Linked DNA regions of Homo sapiens: all the other regions are linked to region 2. The links come from fine-mapping of genetic effects on gene expression. A gene starts in region 2. Each other region holds a variant in brackets. All regions are shown on one strand. Distances are from middle to middle. Region 1 overlaps PRKCQ (protein kinase C theta). Region 2 holds the start of PRKCQ-AS1 (PRKCQ antisense RNA 1). Region 3 overlaps LINC02648 (long intergenic non-protein coding RNA 2648). Region 4 has its middle 4.7 kb from the start of LINC02648. Region 5 has its middle 17 kb from the start of LINC02648. Region 6 has its middle 11 kb from the start of LINC02648.

Evidence for each region. PIP is the estimated chance that this variant, and not a neighbour inherited with it, causes the effect.
Region 1: its variant is fine-mapped to the expression of PRKCQ-AS1 in skeletal muscle (GTEx, PIP above 0.99).
Region 3: its variant is fine-mapped to the expression of PRKCQ-AS1 in iPS cells (iPSCORE, PIP 0.95).
Region 4: its variant is fine-mapped to the expression of PRKCQ-AS1 in whole blood (INTERVAL, PIP 0.98).
Region 5: its variant is fine-mapped to the expression of PRKCQ-AS1 in whole blood (TOPMed, PIP 0.99).
Region 6: its variant is fine-mapped to the expression of PRKCQ-AS1 in whole blood (TOPMed, PIP above 0.99).

Annotation. Positions count from the first base shown.
Region 1 is chr10:6,469,641-6,473,731 of GRCh38, reverse strand. The region is part of intron 12 of PRKCQ (protein kinase C theta); the gene reads left to right. Among named protein-coding and RNA genes, the nearest start is that of PRKCQ, 110 kb to the left of the region's middle. The variant C/T (reference allele first, on the strand shown) is at 2,257.
Region 2 is chr10:6,578,348-6,582,438 of GRCh38, reverse strand. PRKCQ-AS1 (PRKCQ antisense RNA 1) reads right to left here and starts at 2,014. Exons shown (of 2, transcript NR_036503.1): 1 at 1,512-2,014. It overlaps PRKCQ (protein kinase C theta), which reads left to right and starts at 2,163. Exons shown (of 18, transcript NM_006257.5): 1 at 2,163-2,228. RefSeq lists silencers at 1,752-1,901, 1,912-2,161.
Region 3 is chr10:6,627,812-6,631,902 of GRCh38, reverse strand. It overlaps LINC02648 (long intergenic non-protein coding RNA 2648), which reads right to left. Exons shown (of 6, transcript NR_120634.1): 5 at 3,526-4,091. Among named protein-coding and RNA genes, the nearest start is that of LINC02648, 11 kb to the right of the region's middle. RefSeq lists an enhancer at 1,583-2,154. The variant A/G (reference allele first, on the strand shown) is at 2,112.
Region 4 is chr10:6,611,931-6,616,021 of GRCh38, reverse strand. No RefSeq gene overlaps it. Among named protein-coding and RNA genes, the nearest start is that of LINC02648, 4.7 kb to the left of the region's middle. The variant G/A (reference allele first, on the strand shown) is at 2,251.
Region 5 is chr10:6,599,469-6,603,559 of GRCh38, reverse strand. No RefSeq gene overlaps it. Among named protein-coding and RNA genes, the nearest start is that of LINC02648, 17 kb to the left of the region's middle. The variant G/A (reference allele first, on the strand shown) is at 2,208.
Region 6 is chr10:6,605,357-6,609,447 of GRCh38, reverse strand. No RefSeq gene overlaps it. Among named protein-coding and RNA genes, the nearest start is that of LINC02648, 11 kb to the left of the region's middle. The variant C/T (reference allele first, on the strand shown) is at 2,143.

The DNA of each region.
Region 1 (4,091 bases), 110 kb after region 2:
CAAAAATGCTGCAATCCATGAACCTTTCAGTTGAGCTAGGAGCCCTGGAAATTACCACAATTGTAGCAAAGAAAAGAAAACCCACGGAAACCACATCCTTCCAAAGACGTGTCCCTGCACTAAGACAAGAATTAACTTTTCATGCTGCCCCCATCTGTAGTGACAGATAAGCCTCTTTTCTTTAACGTCCTCTGGCGGCGTTCTGATCCTGAGAACGCTTACACGTTGTTATTTCAGAAACTGGGGATCACTCAGACATTCTGCAGGTTCCCCTGCTATGTAACCAAACTGTGATTTGGCAAATGTTAGATTTTATAGCAAATTTACAAAAATGAGTCGATTTACAGCTGTCAACCTGAAATAATCAAAAAGGCCAGAATCTAATTTAAAGAGCATTTATTCAAACTCAAAGTTTGAGGATGGCCCACCTGGAAACACCCCAAAAGAATGAAGTCAGAGTTGTAAAGGAGGGAACTTTAGGGTTTCCATAGGGAGAGACAGAGGCATTTTTAGCAGGATTACATTTTTTCATACAAGGCTGGTGCATAGTTCCAGGAACTTGGTTACAGGCAGTGTTTCTTTTTGGGAAAGGGACATTTAACATCTTTTACAGAGTGTGCTATAGTCATGGGTTTTCTGTCATCTGGTCTAAGGAAAATAGGACAAAAAAAGGAAAAGGTAATCTTTAACAAGATTCATTAATTAAAAAGGCAGGAGGCGGCCAGGCACGGTGGCTCACACCTGTAATCCCAGCACTTTGGAGGCTGAAGCGGGTGGATCACCTTGGGGTCAGGAGTTTGAGACCAGCCTGGCCAACATGGCGAAACTCTGTCTCCACTAAAAATACAAAAATTAGCCAGGCGGGGTGGTGGGCACCTATAATCCCAGCTACTCAGGAGGCTGAGGCAGGATAATCACTTGAACCCATGGGGCGGAGGTTGCAGTGAGCTGAGACCACACCACTGCACTCCAGCATGGGCGAAACAGTGAAACTCCGTCTCAAAAAGAAAAAAAGAATAAAAGAAGTCAGGAAGTGTTTGTCCCTGACAATTGTTTAATTCTCTCTAGTCATTGTACAGAACAAGAGAAAAAAGGAAGCAAGTTAATCTATAATCTGAGAAACAGAAGTTGTAACCATATGTGACTCAGATCACAGTCGCATCTCTCTCAAGGCGTAAAACGCATTTTAGGAATTCTAACACCTTTTAAATGTTATTTATTTTCACACAGTAATTTATGGGAAATTAATGTTGCACTCACAATGTTTCCTTACAGTTTTCTCGTCCAAATACACAGGAAATAACGGGCAATGAGTGAATACATATTCAGGAATTCTTGGACTAAAAGAACAAGACACTCACTCAGTGCATCTGAAATGCCGCATCTTTCCTACATGCCTGCTTTTTTTTTGTTTGTTTTTTTCTGAGATGGAGTCTCGCTCTGTCGCCCAGCCTGGAGTGCAGTGGTGCGATCTCGGCTCACTGCAAGCTCTGCCTCCCGGGTTCACGCCATTCTCCTGCCTCAGCTTCCCAAGTAGCTGGGACTACAGGCGCCCACCACCATGCCTGGCTAATTTTTTGTATATTTAGTAGAGATGGGGTTTCACCGTGTTAGCCAGGATAGTCTCAATCTCCTGACCTTGTGATACACCCACCTCGGCCTCCCAGAGTGCTAGGATTACGGGCGTGAGCCACCGCGCCCGGCCCCTACACGCCCACTTTTTAAGCTCACAGATCTGTTCTCATCTTGATGTGACTCTGTAATATTCTTCCAGGCTCATGGCCCATATTATCTGCCCATTCCTTTGTCAGCCATTCTCACAAAGTCCCAAAAGTATTGTCACCAGCTTCCCAGAAGACATGAGCATTTGACATCTCCTTCAAGAGAGTGCCTCAGGAAAGTGCATGCCTTCTGTGAATCTACTATCCCTCTTTTGTTTTTTGTTGTTGTTGTTGTCATTGTTGTGTTTGTTTGTTTGTTTTGAGAAGGAGTCTCACTCTGTCGCCCAGATTGGAGTACAGTGGAACGATCTCGGCTCACTGCAACCTCCATCTCCTGGGTTCAAGTGATCCTCCTACCTCAGCCTCCCAAGTAGCTGGAATTACAAGCGTGCGCCACTGCGCCCAGCTAATTTTTTTTTCTTGGTATTTTAGTAGAGATGGGGTTTCACCATGTTGGCCAGGCTGGTCTCAAACTCCTGACCTCAAGTGATCCACCCACCTCGGCCTCCCAAAGTGCTGGGATCACAGGCATGAG[C/T]CACCATGCCCAGCCTACTCTCCCTCCTTTGAAACCTTGCTGACAAACTACCTACTCTATAAATCACGCTCAGATACACTAAATCCTACTTGTCATTCAGACGCTCAGGCTTCTCAGCTTACGTGACCCAGAAAGATGATTTTGCTCCTGTACTGCTGGGTGTCTTCTGTGACTTCTTTCATATGTTCTGTTTAAATAATACCTTGTCTATGTAAATAATACATTCCTTGATACCAAGATGCATGTTTCGCTCTTTTCTTTTGTTTCATTTGCCCGTAGAGTGCTAGATAATGTTCAGGGGCTGGGCACAGGGGGGAGCGGAAGAGAAAAAGAAAGATAAATGGTCTGACTGTAGATCATACTGGCTAACTCAGGTGCCAGGAAGGCTGGTCCCGAATAGAACTGCAGAGGAGAAGTCTATCTTTGACAAACCCTCTTCCCACCCCTCTCTGACCTCCTGTTTCATTATTTTCCCCTTCATCCCAGAGTTCACATGATCTTGTACCCACTGTAGCTATCAGGTCTCTGCCTTGATTTTTTTTTTTTTTTGCGACAGTCTCACTCTGTTGCCCAGGCGGCTCAATACAACCTCCACCTCCTGGGTTCAAGTGATTCTCCTGCCTCAGCCTCCCAAGTAGCTGGGGTTACAGGTGTGTGCCACCATGCCTGGCTAATTTTTGTATTTTTGGTAGAGATGGGATTTCACCATATTGGCCAGGCTGGTCTTGAACTCCTGACCTCTAGTGATCCACCCACCTCAGGCTCCCAAAATGCTGGGATTATAGGCATGAGCCACCGCGCTTGGCCTCTGCCTTGATCCTTGATGGCAAAATCGTTCTTCTCCATCTCCTTGTCTCTCCCCCTTAAAACTTCTGTCACTTCAGGAACCTCTTCTCCACCACCAGTCTTAGAGAAATATCTGATAAATAGCATAGAGCAGTTTAATATGTGTTGTTCCTAGCAACGATTTCTTCCTAAAGTGGAGCAGAGTGGAGTTTCCTTATTAGACCCAACATTACGTTGTATTTGAGGTGATTACAGTTCCCATCCTGAGGAGGTGACACGCATGGGACTCTTCAGGGGAAACTGTGGGAATATATGAGCGTCAGAATCAACGTACTGCAGAAATTCAAGTGCTAAACCACAGAAAAGCCCTCTTTTACAAAGTAGGAGGAAGAGCAGGGGGGAAAGGTGATAGGGAGGATCCCTTGGGGTGGTAAGAAGAGGAACAGAGGAGTTAGGAGTATCGGAGGACAGGAGAGGAAAGAATTTCAAGAGAGAAAGGATCATATATTTAATGTGGTGAAGAGTTGACAATCAAAAACTGAGTGTGGAATGTGTCATGGAGGAGGAACAGACAATACAGTGTGAAGGAGTGAGTGGTGGATAGGCAGATTCAGTGGTGATACAGAAATCTTCCAGAAAGAGTTTTCAGAAGATGGAAGCTCATTATGACTGCAGAGTGTAAGGGATGAGAATCATGGGAAATGCTTGAGCCAGAGATGGAGAAACCAGACAAGAGGGAGACTATTCAGGTTGTAGCCTTTTCAGATAGGCTTCTTTCACTTAAGAATATGCATTTAAGGGTTCTTCTTTTCTTTCTGTGGCTTGAGAACTCATTTTTCATTGCTCAGTAATATTCCATTGACAACTAATGATTTGTTATGTTCTTTTGTTTTCCTTATAATGACAGACTCCATGGATCAAGAATTTTAGAGTAGGGAGGGGTGGTAGAGGTTATCAAGTCAGATCCCCTCATTTTGCAGCAAAGGAAATGGAGCTCCAGAGAAGATAAGCCTAGCTGGTCACAGGAGAGTGCTCTTTTCTGTGGTCAA
Region 2 (4,091 bases):
TTGAGTCCTGGGGGATCAAAACTGCAGTGAGCTATGATCACGCCGCTGCACTCCATCCTGGGCAACACAGCAAGACTCTGTCTCAAAAAGAAAAAAAAAAGTCCTTATCATACCTGGTGTATATATGAAACTTTTTCTAAAGCCACTAACTACTGATTAAATTAACAGGACATATGAGCTTCCTTTCAGTGCCTAATTGTCAATGAGAAACCCAGATATGGAGCGTGAGGAATCTACCATCTTCTAGGCACAGTAGCTGTTATCCGTTTGCCATTTCTTCTTTGCACTGTAACAGGATCCGCTGAAAAACAATTGGAGAAAGAGCCAGATGGATGGCAGTCTGAACTAGGGAAGCTTCTGTTTTGTAGTTTGCAGAAAGAATCTGCATGGGGATCACTGCTTAAGCTTTGCCTCTTTGTTTCCAGACACAGACGCACTTTCCTGCCTAATTTCCATAGCAAATACCCAATGAGCGCCTACTGTATGCCAGGTTCTGATGATGTCAGAGTGAGCCAGCACTTCCGAGGTACTGGCCACTCTCAAACCTCCTGGCTAGGATCTTCCAAGAGCTACAGCCTCTGGCCTGAGGGTCAGTCCAATGCTGTTAGATATTGACAAATGCGGGGCTAATTTTAATGGAATATAGTTTTATCCTTAAAAGGTGTGTGTGTTTTGGCTTTATTTGGGTTCATATAGATTAGGGGCATCATCATAACTCGCTTCCTAGTGCAGACCTGAGTGATTTAATCAAGTCTTGAAACACTTCGGGGCCTCAGTTTTTCATCTGCCTTCCCAACCTCTGAGGTTCTTTTTAGTTGACATCCTACATTCCCATGATCAGAAGGCTGCTAATTCAACTTTTGGCTTTTGTTAAACCTTTTTTTTTTTTGAGGCAGAGTTTTGCTGTCACCCAGACTGCAGTGCAGTGGTGAGATCTCAGCTCACTGCAACCTCCTCCTCCCAGGTTCAAACGATTCTCCTGCCTCAGCCTTCTGAGTAGCTGGGATTACTGGCACGTGCCACAACACCCAGCTAATTTTTGTATTTTTAGGAGAGACACGATTTTGCCATGTTGGCCAGGCTGGTCTCAAACTCCCAGCCTCAAGCGATCCACCCGCCTCAGCCTCCCAAAGTGCTGGCATTACAGGCATGAGCCACCGCACCTGGCCTGTTTTGTTTTGTTTTAATCGTTTTTAATGTCTCTCTCAAAACAAGAAAAGAAAAAAGGACAAAAAATTACTATTTTACTTCTCAGATTAATCTGATCTTAGTACACTACAGCAACAAAAGTCTTAATCAAGTACGTTTTAATTATTTGGTGTCATCATTGCAAGGAAACCATTCAGTAAGAATATTAGTAACCAGACATATAATTTTCTAACCTGAATGAGAAATTAGTTACATGGAGTATAGAAAAAGAAACCACCCCGTTTATCCTCCCTGTGACCATCATTAGTATTACCCGCAAGGCATAAAAAGTCCTAAAATGACACGCACGGCGGCAACATTACCTTTGCAGCTTCAAGCACAGTAAAGTTGAAAGCAGTCCCACCTTGGCAATTGTGTATAAAACGACAATGTGCAGATACAGGAAAAGTCCCAGGTCCGAAGCCACCTAGGAACGATGACCCCAGGACAGAAGTGTGCCCAAACAAATGCCTGGGGTAGGTCATTTTAAAAGGAACAATGTTTACAAGCCCTTTCTAGCGTGAAAAACAGAGAAAAGAGACCCAGCTCTTTCCACCCAATCTGCTGGAGCGCCGTTTCGTTTTCAGTTGGGCGAGAGGGAGACATGTGGCCTCTCGCCCCTTTTCCTGACTCTGAGAATGTGGCCGGAGCCGGGGCGCTCCTGCTCCGCCTCGCCGCCCTCCCGGGGCTGTCCTGGGCCCTCCGGCCGCCGCCTCCCGCTCCAGTTCGCAGCTGGGCGACAAGTGGCTGGTAAGGAGGCCAGGGGCGGGAGCCTGGGCGCGGGACCGGGGGCGCACGGCGGGGGACCGAGCGCGCGTCCCTGGCTAGAGGTGCCGGGTCCCGGGAGGCCGGGCTGGCGGGGAGGCTGGCGAGCGCCCCCTGGCGGGCACCGCCTTCTAGGCGCACCCGCAGTGCGCCGGGCCCGCCAGCCCCGCCAGCCCCGCCAGCCCCGCCAGCCCCGCCAGTCCCCGCGCAGTCCCCGCGCAGTCCCCGCGCAGTCCCAGCGCCACCGGGCAGCAGCGGCGCCGTGCTCGCTCCAGGTAGGGCCCCGCGCCCCGCGCCGCCGCCGGGAGGGAGCGGGCTGGAGGGGCCGAGACCCGTGGCGAGAAGGGCTACCCGGGCCCCTCGGAGAGCCTCCGGGAAGGGGTGAGGGCTGCCGGGTGAGCAGGCGGAGTAGGAAATGGAACCAAGCGGGCGCAAGAGCGCACCGGGAAGAATTTCCCCGCTGGGTTTCTGGGACGCAGGTCGCACGGGATGCGGGATGCTGGCGACCTTAGCCGGGTGGGGGCCGCCGGCCTGGGGGCGCTTCCTCCTTTCTTCTCCCTTTTCCTTCTCACCTGAACGAAAGGGGGCCTGCGGGGAGGGAAGAAGGTGGAAAGTTTTTGTATTCTTGGTAAAAAAAAAAAAAAAAAATGCGTGAGGAAACATGTTTTCTGGAGATGGTATCCTGTCCACAGGGGAGCATAACCCCTTTTCTGGGAATGTATTGGAGCACGGACGGGGGTGCCATTGCTCAGGCTTCTAAACAAGCCAAGTTTCTGGTCAAGGGCCTGGGGGAGGGGGAGGCAGGTCTTTGAAAGATACCAAAAAAAAAAAAAAAAGAAAAATCTGCGTGCTCATTCCTGTAGCCTCAAGTGAGGTTATTCCCCAGCTTTGAGGGCCAGGTTAACCAAGCAAAGTTTGTGCAATAAAGTATCTTTGTGGTATTGGATTTTCGAGAGCCACCGTTATCAATGGGAGAGTGACTGTTGAATGCTACAGGCGTGTGCACTCCCCCGTGGGCATGAAGAGAGGTCCACGGGCTGGCTGGATTGGGAGACTCCGGTCATTTCTGCAAGGAGAGCGCCACAGGACTGCCTTGTTCCCTGGGCTGTCCTGCCCCTGTGCGGGCTGGACGTGGTGCTATAAAAGATGATTCAGGAGTGGCACAGGCTGAGGGGGACTAGGCTGGAGAAGGTGGAGGGAAGAGGGAGCACTCCGTGCCCTCTTCCTGTCCATGGGAAATGAACCATCTGTGCCTGGTGTCCAAGTCCTTGACGTTCCAGTTGCCCTTTGAGAGCACACCTCAAGCCTGCTGAATTCTTTTAAGAACCACCTACAAGATCTGAGAAGTCCGCCCATGCTTTCTGTCAACTCCGGCCTCTTTGACCTTTTCTTTTGCCAAAGAAAATTCTAAACCACTGGGATTCGTGAGGCTCCGTGAGAGAGGCAAGAAGCCTGGAGGGTCCACTCCGTTGCTCTTTTCCCTTGGTTTGCTCCCTAGAAGCCATGGTCCCCACTGGGCCCTTCTTGCCCGAGGCTGTGTGATAGACAAGCCCTATTCCTAAGGTCCTGGGTCCCCCACCCCACCCCACACCCCGACCTTGTGAATCATCATCTTCATATTTTCCCTAACTTATCTTTGGTAACCCTTGTAAAATGGCAGGCTTACTGCGGATGCTTAATCTCTTTTAAAAGTGCTGTGTCTAGCGGGAAGAAGAGTGACATTTACTAATATGGTTGCAAATTACTTTTGAAGTTTATGCACAGCTGTTTAAAATCCCTCTGAGATCAGTGCCATTGTTTGATGCAGGTGCTTACCGCAGAAGGCTCTTGTTAGTCCCTTCCTCCTGCTGATTGAACATACATATATTTAAAGACGTGGCGTAGGGAGAGCTTCTAAAACCTGCAAAGCCAAAGCTGCACAGCTCCTGCAAGTTAGCGATCCACTCTAAGTTTTTCAGTTGTTGTTTCTGTCTTCTTGCCTCTCATGAACTTCTGTTTCTGATTTCAAGAGTAACCTGCTGGGCACCATCAGCCTTTGTTTCAGTGACCTGCGATTTTCTTCTACACTTTAAAAATGTCAATATCCAGGCAAGACTCTTGTCACCCACCATCCGCGTTGTCATGTTCATTTCCGCTAC
Region 3 (4,091 bases), 49 kb before region 2:
TATCTCTGCATAATTCTCATAAAAACACACGTGCTCTCCCTGCCAATCGTGTCCGACTGATCTCTCAAACCCAAGCACCTTCTACAAAACGACAACTCCTTTCCTTCCTAGGCATGGTTAGCGCGGTCAGAATTCTTACACAAGAGCCAGGACAACACCCTGTAGGCTTTCTGTCCAAACAACTTGACCTTACTGTTTTAGCCTAGCCCTCATGTCTGCATGCAGCGGCTGCCACTGCTTTAGTACTTTTAGAGGCCCTCAAAATCACAAACTGTGCTCAACTCATTCTCTACAGTTCTCCTAACTTCCAAAATCTATTTTCTTCCTCATACCTGATGGATATACTTTCTGCTTCCTGGCTCCTTCAGCTATACTCACACTTTGTTGAGCCTCCCACAATTACCATTGTTCCTGGCCCAGACTTCAATCCGGCCTCCCACATTATTCCTGATACCACACCTGACCCCCATGACTATCTCTCTGATCCACCTGACATTCACCCCGTTTCCCCAAATTTCCTTCTTTCCTATTCCTCACCCTGATCATGCTTGATTTATTGATGGCGGTTCCACCAGGCCTAATCGCCACACACCAGCAAAGGCAGGTTTTGCTATAGTACAAGCCACTAGCCCACCTCTTAGAACCTCTCATTTCTTTTCCATCGTGGAAATCTATCCTCAAGGAAATAACTTCTCAGTGTTCCATCTGCTATTCTACTACTCCTCAGGGATTATTCAGGCCTCCTCCCTTCCCCACACATCAAGCTCGAGGAATTGCCCCACCCAGGACTGGCAAATTAGCTTTACTCCACATGCCCTGAGTCAGAAAACTAACATATCTCTTGGTCTAGGTAGACACTTTCACTGGATAGGTACAAGCCTTTCCTACAGGGTCTGAGAAGGCCACCGCAGTCATTTCTTCCATTCTGTCAGACATAATTCCTCAGTTTAGCCTTCCCACCTCAATACAGTCTGATAACAGATGAGCCTTCATTAGTCAAATGAGCCAAGCAGTTTTTCAGGCTCTTAGTATTCAGTGAAACCTTTATATCCCTTACGGTCCTCCATCTTCAAGAAAAGTAGAAAGGACTAATGGTCTATTAAAAACACACCTCACCAAGCTCAGCCACCAACTTAAAAAGGACTGGACAATACTTTTACCACTTTCCCTTCTCAGAATTCAGGCCTGTCCTTAGAATGCTACAGGGTACAGCCCATTTAAGCTCTTGTATAGACGCTCCTTTTTATTAGGCCCCAGTCTCATTCCAGACACCAGACCAACTTGGACTGTGCCCCAAAAAACTTGTCATCCCTACTATCTTCTGTCTAGTCATACTCCTATTCACCGTTCTCAACTACTCATACATGCCCTGCTCTTGTTTACACTGCTGGTTTACACTGTTTTTCCAAGCCATCACAGCTGATATCTCCTGGTGCTATCCCCAAACTGCCACTCTTAACTCTTGAAGTAAATAAATAATCTTTGCTGGCAGGACTATGCTGAATCTCCTTAGGCACTCTCTAATCAGATATCCTGAGTCATCCCAATTCTTAGACATTTTATACCTGTTTTTCTCCTTCTGTTATTCCATTTAGTTTCTCAATTCATCCAAAACCGTATCTAGGCCATCACCAATCATTCTATATGACAAATGTTTCTTCTAACATCCCCACAATATCACCCCTTACCACAAGACCTCCCTTCAGCTTAATCTCTCCCACTCTAGGTTCCCAAGCCACCCCTAATCCCGCTTGAAACAGCCCTCAGAAACATCGCCCATTCTCTCTCCATACCACCCCCCAAAAATTTTCGCTGCCCCAACACTTCAACATTATTTTGTTTTATTTTTCTTATTAATATCAGAAGGCAGGAATGTCAGGCCTCTGAGCCCAAGCCAAGCCATCACATCCCCTGTGACTTGCACGTATATGCCCAGATGGCCTGAAGTAACTGAAGAATCACAAAAGAAGTGAATATGCCCTGCCCCACCTTAACTGATGACATTCCACCGCAAAAGAAGTGCAAATGGCCAGTCCTTGCCTTAAGTGATGACATTACCTTGTGAAAGTCCTTTTCCTGGCTCATCCTGGCTCAAAAAGCACCCCCACTGA[A/G]CACCTTGCGACCCCCACTCCTGCCCGCCAGAGAACAAACCCCCTTTGACTGTAATTTTCCTTTACCTACCCAAATCCTATAAAACGGCCCCACCCCTATCTCCCTTCACTGACTCTCTTTTCGGACTCAGCCTGCCTGCACCCAGGTGAAATAAACAGCCATGTTGCTCACACAAAGCCTGTTTGGTGGTCTCTTCACACGGACGCGCATGAAAGTTTGTGTAAAGATTTATTATACCAAAACTCTGTGAGCAGTTCATTAACCTTCAAGGAACTACCATGTATTACATTCAAAGACAAAGAAAATCAAAACTTTATCTATCTTGGGGCAGCCACGATATTGAAGACAGGTCCGTAGTATTTTCTTGATTCTGAACATTAATTTTGAGCTCTTTCAGAGAAGTAGAGGAAGATGCAACATGGAATGTCCTTTATACATCATTATAACTCCTCCCTGGCTTTCTAGCTTGCCCTGAGGTGACCCACGTTTTAATATGCAACTTGAAAGTCTGTTTAATTTAGAAAGAGTCATGACCAGGAATTTTCAGAGCAAATTTTAAAAGTCATGATGGGGACTGGAAACTAGACCTAAACTTGAAAGATGTTTGTCAGCAAGGTTTTATTGTATTCCATTCGAATCTGCAAGCAGACAAAGCACCAATGATAACGTAGCACCAGCAATAACAATTATAGTAATAATATCTGCCATTTTTGACCATTATCCTGCAATAAGCATTGTGCTTGATATGCATGATTTCGTGCAAGTCTCACACTAACCCTTTGAGGAGACAATACATTTTGTATCCTCATTTTATATACAGAACAAATGGTAGGAGAATTGGGTTATAACAAGGAATCAATAAACAATGTAAATGCATGCTATATGATAGTAGTAGTATCTTCACATTGAAAATAATTTGGCTTCAGTAAAACACATTTTAATCTGTCCTGTTAAATTGCTAATTCTACACTTAATCTTAATTTTTAAGTTTCATGTTTAAGGACTATGAACAGAAGGGTTTTAAATCTTAGGTTTAAATAATAAAAACTAATTCAGTCAGTAATCAGATATATATATATATATATATATATATATATATATATATATATATATATATAGAAAGAGAGGGGAAGAGAGAGAGAGAGCATAATATTGTGATTTATTTTAAGGAATCTGCATTTTACTCAAATTTATGAAGCATTGGAGTACACACTGATAGCTGCAAGAAGACAAAAGCAATGGCCAGGTGTGGTGGCTCACGCCTGTAATCCCAGCACTTTGGGAGGCTGAGGTGGGCAGATCACTTGAAATCAGGAGTCTGAGATTAGCCTGGCCAACATGGTGAAACCCCATCTCTAATAAAAATACAAAAATTAACCAGGCGTGGTGGCACATGCCTGTAATCCCACTTACTTGGGAGGCTGAGGCAGGAGAATCGCTTGATCCTGGGAGGCAGAGGTTGCAGTGAGCCCAGATCACACCACGGCACTCCAGCCTGGCTGATAGACCAAGAGTCCCTCTCAGAGAAATAAAAAAAAAAAAACAAAAAAAAAAAAACAAGAACTGATTATGCTAATCCTGGAGGAAAGAGATCGATGGTAAAGAAATAAAGAAACATGTCAAAAGAGTACTCAGTCATCTAAAAGCCTCCTGCCCAGAAGAGTTGTTGCATTTTTCTTCATGGCCCCAACTGCTAGAATTACAATTAATGGGTGGAGGAAGCCACACACACATGGACCAACACACACATACACACATGCACCCACACATTTACACACACGCACACACACACACAGTTGTGGCAAAATTGAATGAGCTACCTTGGGTGGAAATGAACCTCCTTTCACTGGGGGCATTTCAACAAAGACTTCCATGACTAGTGTGGGCAAGAAGGGTTGACCAGAACATTAAGACCCCTTACTGTGCTAGGATTCTCTGCCTCTTAGGGGAAGAGTGTTGAAGCTGGGAAGTCAGAATTA
Region 4 (4,091 bases), 34 kb before region 2:
AGGAAAGACACAAAATCTGGCAAGACACAAATGCCCCGTGAAATTCATTGATAAGCAGTTTCCGTTGTAAATATGAACATACAAATTTATTACATACCCTTTATTGCACTTATACAATGAAATGACTAAGAAGATTGTAGTTCTTCATCACTTTATCAGCACAATCTGTAGGTCTAGACTTAAATTATCCTCTTCTTTCTCACATCTCGTTTTCAGAAATCACCACATGGACTCTCCAACATGATTGGCAATATAAATGCTAATAAATGATAACACAGAGGGCATAATAAATACTTGAACAGAAATTGCAAAAAAAAAAAAAAAAGAAAATGTCACAATAAAATTCTCTTCTAACCTATATAAACCTTGCCTTGCAATGCTTACCACAGCAAAATGCCAGAGCAGAAGCTGAGTTGCAACACACACAAAAATTCCTTCCTTAGAATGGAAATGTCCCTGCAATTTACTATTAGGTTGGGTGCAACTTGCTTGCTCCCTTGTATCTGTCAGGAGTGCAGAAGGTTGGTCAGGGGAGGTGATCTTGGGAGGGAGAGACTGGTATCTTCAGACTAGAGTCTTTCCATGGGCACTATAGCATCCACCGATTATCAACAGCCTTCCCCAATTTGCACAGAAAATTGAGAATGGACTCCTGCAAATAAACACAGTCCTGTTCACAGCAACACAACAAGGATTAAGGATCCCTAACAAAATCCCAACAGGGCTGCTACATCACCAGCATTGTGCAGTATGTGAAGTTCAAAAACTGGGGTTTATCCGTAATGTGATACCAACTTACTCCTGCAAGAATGGCCATAATCAAAAAATCAAAAAACAGTAGATGTTGGCGTGGATGCAGTGATCAGGGAACACTTCTAATTGCTGGTGGGAATGTAAACTAGTATGGCCACTATAGAAAACACTGTGGAGATTCCTTAAAGAACTAAAATGGAACTACCATTTGATCCAGCAATCGCATTACTGGGCATCTACCCAGAGGAAAAGAAGTCATTATAAGAAAAAGATACTTGCAGATTCATACGAAAAGTCATTATACGAGAAAGATACTTGCAGATTTATAGCAGCACAATTCACAATCACAAAATTGTGGAACCAACCCAAATGCCTATTAATCAACAAGTGGATAAAGAAACTGTGGTAGAAATATACAATGGAATACTTCTCAGCCATAAAAAGGAATGAATGAACGGCATTTGCAGTGACCCAGATGAGATTGGAGACTATTATTCTAAGTGAAGTAACTCAGGAATGGAAAAGCAAACATTGTATGTTCTCACTGATATGTGGTAGCTAAGCTGTGAGGACACAAAGGCATAAGGATGATACAATGGACTTTGGAGACTTGGGGGAAAGGGTGGGAGGGGTCAAGGGATAAAAGACTGCAAATAGGGTGCAGTGTATACTGCTCGGGTGATGGGTGCATCAAAATCTCACAAATCACCACTAAAGAACTGTAACCAAACATCACCTGTACCCCCAGTAACCTACTGCAAAAAAAATTTTTTTAATTAGGGTTTACTTTTTCATTCACACTCCCTTGCAGAATCACCAGTGACATCTCACAAGATGCCATTAGAGAAACTGTGTCCTAGAGCGTAGCTTAAATGAGCATGCACATTTATGTCTGACTATTTCTGCTAAAGAGTTCTTAAAGAACAGATGTCAGCCTGCTGATGCTCCACTCTCTCATTGCCCTATGCATTTGAGTGTTTCAGAAGAAATTCATATGACCCCGCTGGGGCAGAGATTCGTCTGATGCCATGAAACTTCGAGTAGACACGAAGGAAAGGCAAGAAATTAAACACAGGAGAACTTGGTTCAGTATCTGGGGCCAGCAAGGAATTATGCACTTAGAACCCAGATGATAGGTCTCAGTGAGGCAGGTTATCTCCACCTCTCCCTATCCCCACCCATCAAGCCCAAAGAAGGTGGATTAGTCTGTTTTCATGCTGCTGATAAAGACATACCCAAGACTGGCTGATGTATAAAGAAAAAGAGGTTTAATGGACTCACAGTTCTGTGTGGCTGGGGAGGCCTCACAATCATGGTGGAAGGCAAAAGGCACATCTTATATGGCGGCAGGCAAGAGAGAATGAGAGAGCCAAGTGAAAGGGGAAACCTCTTATAAAATCATCAGATCTGGTGAGATTTATTCACTACCACAAGAACAGTATGGGGGAAACTGCCTCCATGATTCAATTATCTCCCACTGGGTCCCTCCCACAGCAC[G/A]CGGGAATTATGGGAGCTTCAATACAAGATTTGGGTGGGGACACAGCAGAACCATTTCAGAAGACATAAAGGCTTCTCTCACCTGGAGGATCCTTCACACTAAAGGTTCCTGGAACAGGCACCACCGAATCCTGGATTCATCTATAGCAGGAACAGGTAAGGGATCAGAGAACAATGATCCCTTACCCCATTACAAAATGTTCATATTTTAAATGTCTCCTTTACTTTCTTGCTAAGTACATGGTAAAACCTAGTGAAAGCAACATTAGGCAAGCCCAAGTCCTTATTTTTGTCGATTTTTTCACCCAGACCAATATTTGGGGTCTGCTCTAGTTCACAGATTGGTCTCATTTTGAACTCATGTTGATAAATCTCCAATAAACACTCTTCATGGCCTGGAAATTCTTAGAGGCTTTTCAGGTAAGCCTGCTCTACCAGCTCTTATCAAAGTGACCGCTCTCTTGCGTGTTACCAAATATGTTGGATATTTGTATCCTGATTTTACACCACCTTTTAGTAGCATTTTGTGCATTTCACTATCTCATCTTTTATTTTTTGCTACAAGAATATGTATTCATTGTAACAACTTTATTGAGATATAATTTACATACCATGCAAATAATTCATTTAAAGTATACAATGTGGTGGTTTTTAACACAATCTGTTTTGGAATATTTCATCACCCCAGAAAGAAACCTGTACCCACTACCCATCACTCTCTAATCCCCCCAGCCCTCCTTCCAGCCCTAAGAAACCAGTAATCCACTTTCTGTCTCTAGAGATTTATCTATTCTGGATATTTCATATAAATTGAATTATATATCATGTGATCTTTTATGACTGGCTTCTTTCACAGAGTATGTTTGCAAAGTTCAGCCATGTTGTAGTATATATCAGTATTCCATTCCTTTTTATTGCCAAATAATATTTCACTGTATAGATCTACCACATTTTGCTTATCTATTAATCACATGGCGGGCATTTGGGTTATTTCCAGCTTTTAGCTATTATGAACAATGCTGCTGTGGTCATTCATGTACAAGTCGTTGTGTGGACATATGTTTCATTTCTTTTGGGTATATGCCTATGAGTAGAAGTGCTGGGTCATATGTTAACTCTGTGTTTAACCTTTTGAGGAACTGCCAGACTGTTTTTCAAAGTGACTAAACCATTCTTACATTCCCATCAGCAATGAATAAAAGTTCTAATTTCTCTGCATTCTCATCAACACTTATTATATCTGTTTTTTTTAAAAAAAATTACAGCCATCCTAGTGGGTGTGAAGTGGTTGTGGTTTTCACTGGCATTTTTCTGATGACTAATGAGGTTGAACATCCTTTCATGTATGTACAGGTTATTTTTATATCTACGTTGGAAAATGTGTATTTAGATCTTTTGCCCATTTTTTTAAATGGTTGACTTGGTGTTTTTTTTTTAATTAGTGAGTTGTGTTATTTATATATTCTAGACACAAGTCCTTTATCAGATATATGATTTGCAAATATATTCTTCAAGTCTCTTGGTTGTTTTTCCACTTTCTTGATGATATCTTTTGAAGCACATGTTTTCATTTTTGAAGTTCCATTTTTTTTCCTTTTGTTGTTTGTGCATTTGGCATTGTATTTAATAAAACATTGCCTAATCCAGAGTCTCAAAGATTTACCCCTATGTTTTCTTCTAAGATTTTTACAGTTTTAACTCTCACATTTAGGTGTTTGGTCCATTTTGAGTTAATAATTGCATATTATGTGAGGAAGGGTCCAGCTGTTTTCTTTTGCATGTAGATATCCAGTTGTTCATGCACCATTTGTTAAAAAAAATTCTATTCTGTTGATTGTTTC
Region 5 (4,091 bases), 21 kb before region 2:
CCCAAACTCCAACTGCAAGGGAATCTAGGAGATGTCATTTTTAATATTCCAGCCTCTACTCCAAGAAGGCAGTTGAAACCAATCCGCAGTGTCTGCCCACTCCCGTGGGGATTCCTCAAGGAAGTACCACCAAGGGACTATCTGGAAAATCATGCAGTGAGGGTAATCCAAGCCCAACAGCTGCATTCGTGAGCTCTGGACATGCCAGAGACTTCTTGGCAGATGAGCTGGGAGTCAGAGCCTTGAGAAGAATGCAGGACCAGTTGTTTGGCAAGTGAGGGAGGCAATTCAAACTCAGCTCAGATGTTATGCGGATCAGGAATTTGAACTTCGAATTGTGCTCCATTGTTACCTTTTTGTGTGTTGGATTTTTCTTCATAGTTACTTTTATCTTATTGTTTAAAGTTCTCCTATTTTATTTCAGAAATGGAGAAAAAAGATTTCTACACCATAGTCAAGGTCTCTAATGGGAGAACTAACTAGTGAGAGAGGAATTATTCCCACCAGAGGGGAATTCCCTCTGACAAGCTTCTCAATTTACAAATTCTCAGCTTATGTTGAATTTGGCAAATGAGAGCCATATACACATTGTTTTTATTTTGGAATTTGGATCTATACAATTAACTAAGTGAAAGCTAGTATGCTATATGAATGCTAATTAATTGCTCCTCTTTTAAATAACAACAATTAAGACATTGTTAGCTGTACTGGTTTGCATACACAAATTGTTTGTCTTTGCTACTGGAGAAACTCACTGATCACAGCTGCATGAAAAATGTCTGGTCTACGAAACTTCCATCCATCTTCACATGATAATGCTTAGTTATGCACAATTAATTAACACTTGTAGATCAAAGGATTTTACTCTTATTTATGTCTACCTTTAACTCCTAGAATTGTGTACAATTACTTCCTGAGAAAATTTGTGCAGAATAATCACTTAACATGAAATAAAGTAATAAAACATTGAAACTGGGATGTGCATATGTGCATGAGTCTGGGATTGGGTGAGTTTCTGACAAATTGAGCATATGGAGCCTTGTGATTGATACAAAAGTAGCCATCTCTGAGAAGCCCCAAGCAGCTCGTGTTTGCACAGATTCTCTAGTGACTAAGACTGTTCTTATTTTCTCTACGCCTTTTTCCACTTTCCCATAAGCATTTTTAGACTATGCACTGTTTTTCTACACTGAAATCATCAAGTCACCTCCAAATCTTAAAACCAAGCAGAGAAAGGCCATTATTTAATCATAGCAGTTATGGGGTACAGAAGCAGTCTTCACATTTCCTACATCACATGCAGCCAGAAATCATTTCCTCCCACTGTAAACCCACCAGATTTTTTTTCAACTCACAGGAAGAAACAATGTTTTGGTCTCACTTATTTGCAGGTATATTGGAGGTTTGTATATCTTAAAAGAGAAACTGTCTCTAAGCCCCCAAACCCAAACCAAGGTTAAAAAATGCCCCCTTTTTCCTATTTGGCCTGGAAGCCAAATAATGCTTTCAAAGTAAACCTGTGCATTTTTAAAAACCAATGAGGATAATTCAGAATAAATAAATAAATAAATAAATATTCAAGTTTTCTCTCAATTTTGCAGATCTGGCCACACATCACATCAGCCTCAGGGTCTTCAACATTTTGTGACTGCCACGAGCTTTCCCCAGAACGATAAGATCAACACCGGTGGCTGAATATATCTCTGTCTCTAATTAAAGGCTTCCTTCTGTGCTGTGCTATGGATTAACTTGTAATCTACCGGCAGGTCTTCTTATGCTAGTTACCAAATACACAGTTCCAGGGACGAATTCTCTTTGAAACACCTCATTGATGAGTATTTAAAGCAGGGATCCCTAACCTCTGGCCTACAGACATGTAGCATTCCATGGCCTGGTAGAAACCAGGCTTCACAGCAGAAGGTGAGTGGCGGGCCAGCAAGCCAAACTTCATCTGTGTTCACAGCCGCTCTCCGTGGCCCACATTACCATCTGAGCTTCGCCCCCTATCAGATCAGTGATGGCATTAGATTCTCACAGGAGCATGAACCCTATCGTGAACTGTGTGTGCGAAGGATCTGGGTTGTAAGCTTCTTATGAGAATCTAAGGCCTGATGATCTGTCACTGTCTCCCATCACCCCCAGATGGGGCTGTCTAGTTGCAGGAAAACAAGCTCAGGGCTCCCACTGATTCTACTTTATGGTGAGTC[G/A]TAGAATTATTTTATTATATATTACAATGTAATAACAATAGAAATAAAGTGCATAATAAATGTAATGCACTTGGATCATCCTGAAACCATCCCTGTCTCCACCCCATCCATGGAAAAATTATCTTCCATGAAACCAGTCCCTGGTGCTGAAACGGTTGGGGACTACTAATTTAAAGGACACCCCATCATGCATCTCAACTACTATTTTTGAGGACAGATGTTAGTTATCCTGAATAATCAATTTTGTTATTCATCTGTTTCTCTTTTATATTTCTCACAGATACGATTTATCAACTGGATAATTTCTCTGAGTAATCAAGAAATTAGTAGCCTACGCTTGTAGTATGTGTTAACTGGGGAGATAAAGATTCCAAGGATAAAGAGAGTAAATTGATGTACATCTAATCAATGGATGTAACACCAATTTAAATGTTTAATCAATTCTCACAAACTCTTCAAACCCCTTGAGATGCTCTGTGTTCTCAGGTGGCTGCCATGCAGAGCCTGCGAATCCAGCAAGGGACTCTTGAGGCACCAGCAGCCTCCTTGTGAATGGCACCTGTCCCCCTAGCAAGACCACCGCCCTGGCCTGGCTTCATTACCTGGTCGTATAAAGACGGCAATGTTTCACTACCTTCCCAGAATTAGTGCTGACTCCCTTGAGTACCCAAACAGGAAATCCACAAGTTTTAAAGTACCCGTTCAATCAACCATGCTTGGTAACTTTCACACAGGCTTATGCAAGAACTTGCTCCAGTACTGTTTTTAATCATCTCTTCTGGAGCTGGCAAATTGTTTGCTTAATTTTGCATATGCCAACTCCAACGAGCTCATAATAGCTCCCAGGAGCGCTGCATTGAGAAGGATTCTGAGATCCTATATGAGCTTATGGGAAAGCACATTGTGTCAGGCAGCATTTATGCCCCATCAGTCTTGCTCCAGCCACTGCTGTAGGAACCACCTGTGCACAAGTGAACCTCACAACACCTCACTTCAGTTTCCTGCTGTCTCTTTTGCCTTCTATCTGGGGGCAGTCCTGCTCCTGTGGTGAGGAATCTCTGTAGGAACCAGCCCAGCCATGCTGCCAGTGGGCTAATTGCTGGGGCAGCCCTTGACCAGTGGGCTGAGAGCCAACAGGGAAATACTCCATTTCTGTGTCTTGGGTGGACAGTGCTGAGGAACATCCTACACCATTCCTCAGATTGCCCTTGATATGGTTTGGCTCTGTGTCCCCACCCAAATCTCATCTTGAACTGTAGCTCCCATAATTCCCACGTGTTGTGGGAGGGACCCAGTGGGAGATACTTGAATCATGGTAGTGAATAAGTCTCATAGGATCTGATGGTTTTATAAGGGGTTTCCCTTTTTGTTTGGCTCTCATTCTCTCTTGTCTGCCACCATGTAAGACATGCCTTTTGCCCTCCACCATGATTGTGAGGCCTTTCCAGCCACGTGGAACTGTGAGTCCATTAAACCTCTTTTTCTTTATAAATTACCCAGTCTCAGGTATATCTTTATCAGCAGTGTGAAAACAGACTAATACAGTCCTCCCTGGGGTTGATCCCACAGCCATAACCAGCTAATAATGCATCTATAAACCGGCTGGAATTCCCACTTTCCCTCCTCACTCTCCTCAGTTCCCCATTCCTGTTCTCTCAGATCACTTCTCAAAGTAAATTGTTTCTATAAGAGTTCTTATCTCAAGTTCTGCTTTCTTGGGGGGAAATCCAAGCTAAGAAAAGTCGCTGCTAAATTATTGGGGTTAGCCATGAATGAAGGTTTCATGGGGAGTTCTACCTCTTAAGTTCTACCTCCTGGTGTCTTCCATCCCTTACAATGATTTCAACTCCAATCAGCAGCGGAGCAACTGATACAATATCACTG
Region 6 (4,091 bases), 27 kb before region 2:
AGTCCTTCCCAACCCTGGGCTTCATTTGATAACTTTATTTTATTAATATGAGTTTAGAAGGTACTATGTCCAATCACCCTTCCCAGTCCCTGAGATTCCCTCCCCTGCCCTTGATGACATGCACGATTTCTGCTACATAATAAGCATGGGTGGGAATTCACTATAATTTGAATTTCCCAAAATAAAGATCACAAATTAATAAATCTGCTAAAGATGATCTTGCACATAACTAAATGACTTTTGTGCAAGGGGACATTTAAAAATATATTCCCCGAGTGTAAATTGCCTCCCTCCTTTCTCTGCTACCTCAGATCCCTGACCTCACACCAACTAGAAATACAGTGGAAATTATCAGTACAGCATTATTAATTCTAGTTTTCCACTAAAAGACCTGTATTGTTGAAACAAGACTTTATACATGAAGCATTTTGTAGTTCTGTGAGTGCTTTCACATACTTTGCATCATTTGACCATCACAACAGATGTGTGGTAAGCAGAGTGGATCTTATAATTCCATGTAGTAACAGTGTCAAGGGCAAATACAAGGAGATGGCAACTCAGGGTCAAGTCTAGCCTAGACCACTTCCTTGGTTGTAAAATGAAGATGAAATGTGATCATATGTGTGAAACTCCTAGTACAGTGCCCAGCGTGGAATACATAGGCATTTTTGCTGTTGTGTGCATGCCACCCTGGAGAAATTGAGGACAAACATGGTCCTGATTAGAATCCCATCCACTCACCACCATCCGTCTCCAGCAGTTCCCACAAGCATCCTGCTTTCTCATGGCCCCTTGACTTTCCACCTGCTGCTCTGTCCAAAATTGCTGCTGCCCATTTTCCATCTGGTTAACTCCCACTTACTGTTAAAGACTTATCTCATGTGGCCCTTTTTCTAAGGCTTTCCCCTCTCAGCTCTTCTCCAGGCTGTGTTAGGTGATCCTTCCTGGGACTCCCGTCTCCCTCTCCTAGGTATGGCTGCACCGTGTTGTGCTATAGCTGCCTGCTCCCAAGTTTGTCTCCTCTGTTGCCAATACTTACCTTTAGGTCAGGTAATCTCTGTTTTGCAGTTCTTGAGTAGATGTTCAATCAATATTCTTTCCTTAAATGAATGAATACATAAATGAATAAAAGAAGGTAGGAAGGAAGCAATTAATTTGCTTTTTGTGTGTGCCCCTTGTAACATAACTGAGATGCCAACAGCTTTTCCACTATCCTGGAGATAAGCCAGCACTCTGTTTTAAAGCAGAAAGCAGCAGGGCATGATTTCCCTCAAGGAAAGCATTTCTTGAGTTTCCAGGGATCTAGCCTGTGGCCACAGGTTTAGAAATGATAAGACAGCTGAATCTGAGTTGGGGGAAGGAGCATCAGTTCATTGCAAAGATCATTTTTCTTGGCACTAGTCAAAGAAGAGGACAGAGACATCTGCATGTCCCAATGACATCACTTGGCCCTGCCTTGCACAATAGAGGAAAAGAGCTGTCAGGGCAAATTTCCAGTTTATCTAGACATAGCTGGGCCAAGGCCAAGATTTTCCACCCCTCTCCCTACCCCTACTGCTCCCAACACCGAAAATGGCCTTTGGAGCATTGAATAAAACTGCCGGGAAAGAGCCAAGCTCTTCATCATGAGTTCAAGGTGGTGTCATCCTATACCCCTCACCCTTCTGTGCTTCCACTCGCCACCCCCAACTTCCACCCAAGAAGCCACTCCCTGAATTTGAAGATTAGCATTACTCCACATTTTTTATACTTAAGCTATATATGCATATATCCTCAAAAATGTAGAGCCTTGTTTAACATTTCTTAAACTTTATGTATGTTTTATCATGTTGTACACACTCACCTTAACTTACGAGTGTCTTCTCAATATTACATTGTGAAATTTACCCATTTGAATATTTGTAGCTCTGCTTCATTCATTCCCTTGGGTGACTCTCAGGTCCCCAGGGTGGGTGTCAAATGTGACAGAAGCTAGTCAGAAATGTGCTCTGTGTGGTATGTGAGGCTGGTGGGAGGGCATGAAGGGGCATACCACTCTCAGCTCTTAGCCTGCTCTCATCTTGGGGTAAACGTGTATCCGGGGAGGATCTGTGATCTGCTTCATCACATGGAGACTGGGCTGATCTCATTTCCTGAGCTTTG[C/T]TCCCCTCTTGAGTGATTCTACAATCAGACAGTATATTGTCACCAAAACAACGCTGGGCTGGAAGTCAGAAACCTAGATTCTTGTCCCAGTTCTGAAATAAGAACCCATGTGACCTCTGGTAAGTTATTTCACCTTAGCAAGCCTCAGTTTCCACGTGGAGTATAAGTTGGTTTTCAGAAGCCTTACAAGTCACAGAGTACCCATGCGGCACATTTCTAGGGTGGCCTGCCGTGAAGTTGCCAAACTTTGTACGGAAGGACCCTGTGGTGGTCTCTGCACCCCCACTTCCCACCTAAAGATAACCACGCAGATTACCTAACTTTCCTAAGCCTCCCTTACCTCCTCCCCACAAGTTGAGAAAATGATGAAGTTATAAAATGCATGTAGGGTGGGCACGGTGGCTCACGCCTGTAATCCCAGCACTTTGGGAGACTAAGGTGGGCGGAACACCAGGTCAGGAGATAGAGCCCATCCCGGCTAACACGGTGAAACCCTGTCTCTACTAAAAATACAAAAAATTAGCCGGGCGTGGTGGCGGGCGCCTGTAGTCCCAGCTACTCGGGAGGCTGAGGCAGGAGAACGGCATGAAACCCAGGAGGTGGAGCTTGCAGTGAGCCGAGAGAGATTTCGCCACAGCACCCCAGCCTGGGTGGCAGAGCGAGACTCCGTCTCAAAAAAGAGTAAATAAATAAATAAAATGCATGTAAAGTGCTGAGCACAAGGCTGGCACATAAAAAGTGATAAATGTTAGTTAATAGTATCAGCATTTTTCTGAAGATAATATTTTCCCTTTTTTGCATAATCTCTGTCCTCCTAAAAATATGCATCCCCCATACCTATTCCTATAAGTCTTTGGAGGGTATTTTGTCTTCTCCTGTAACTGCCACTGATCATGCCCCTACACCCAACCATGTCACCACAAGGACACAGAGGCCACGGCACTGGTGCTGTGCTGCCTTTGACCACCATAGCCAGCCTCCAAGTCTGGAGCACCAATGCTTCTTTAATACTTTTCCCAAAAATCCTAGACTTTGTTCCATTTCCCAAAAGTAAAAAAGCCAAAGCAAAGAAGGAAACCTCTCAAAGTCATTCTTGCCTTATTTTGGTTGCTGATTTTGATCATTGTTGTTTATTTTCAATCCCTTTTCTTCTGAGCACTCATGGAATATAGGCTGGGAAACAAGTCTAACAGAACTTTGCCTCTCTCTCTCCCAACAGCCAAGGGTAGTTTTGTCTCTTGAGCGTATTTCTGAGATCTAGGTCATATCTATGTACCTTATGCTCATCTCTGCAAATAGGCTGTTGCCCAAGAAACTTTTTGGTTCCTCAGAAACTTCTGGTCACCAGCCGGGCGCGGTGGCTCACGCCTGTAATCCCAGCACTTTGGGAGGCTGAGGCGGGTGGATCACGAGATCATGAGATCGAGACCATCCTGGCTAACATGGTGAAACCCCGTCTCCACTAAAAATACAAAAAATTGCCAGGTGTGGTGGCGGGCGCCTGTAGTCCCAGCTGCTTGGGAGGCTGAGACAGGAGAATGGCGTGAACCTGGGAGGCGGAGCTTGCAGCGAGCCAAGATTGCGCCACTCCACTCCAGCCTGGGCGACAGAGCGAGACTCCATCTCAAGAAACAAAAACAAAAACAAAACTCCTGGTCGCCATGCTCGCTTTGGTTCTGTCTCTAGCTCTGCCACCCTGGGACTTCAGGACCCTTCTGAGCTACAGTATTCCCACCTCTGCCCGTCAGTGCAGAGGCCCACCCCTCAGCACTCTGTAAAGACCCTCCCCTTCCCCTTGTTGGCCGATTTCTCCACCTCTTAATGAAGGAGTAACCATCTGGCCTCTCTTAGGGGACATCATTAGAGGGTGTCATAGAAAAAAAATAATTGTCCCCCAAAGATGTTATTGTAATCCCGGAACCCGTGGATATGTATTTTTTATGGCAAAA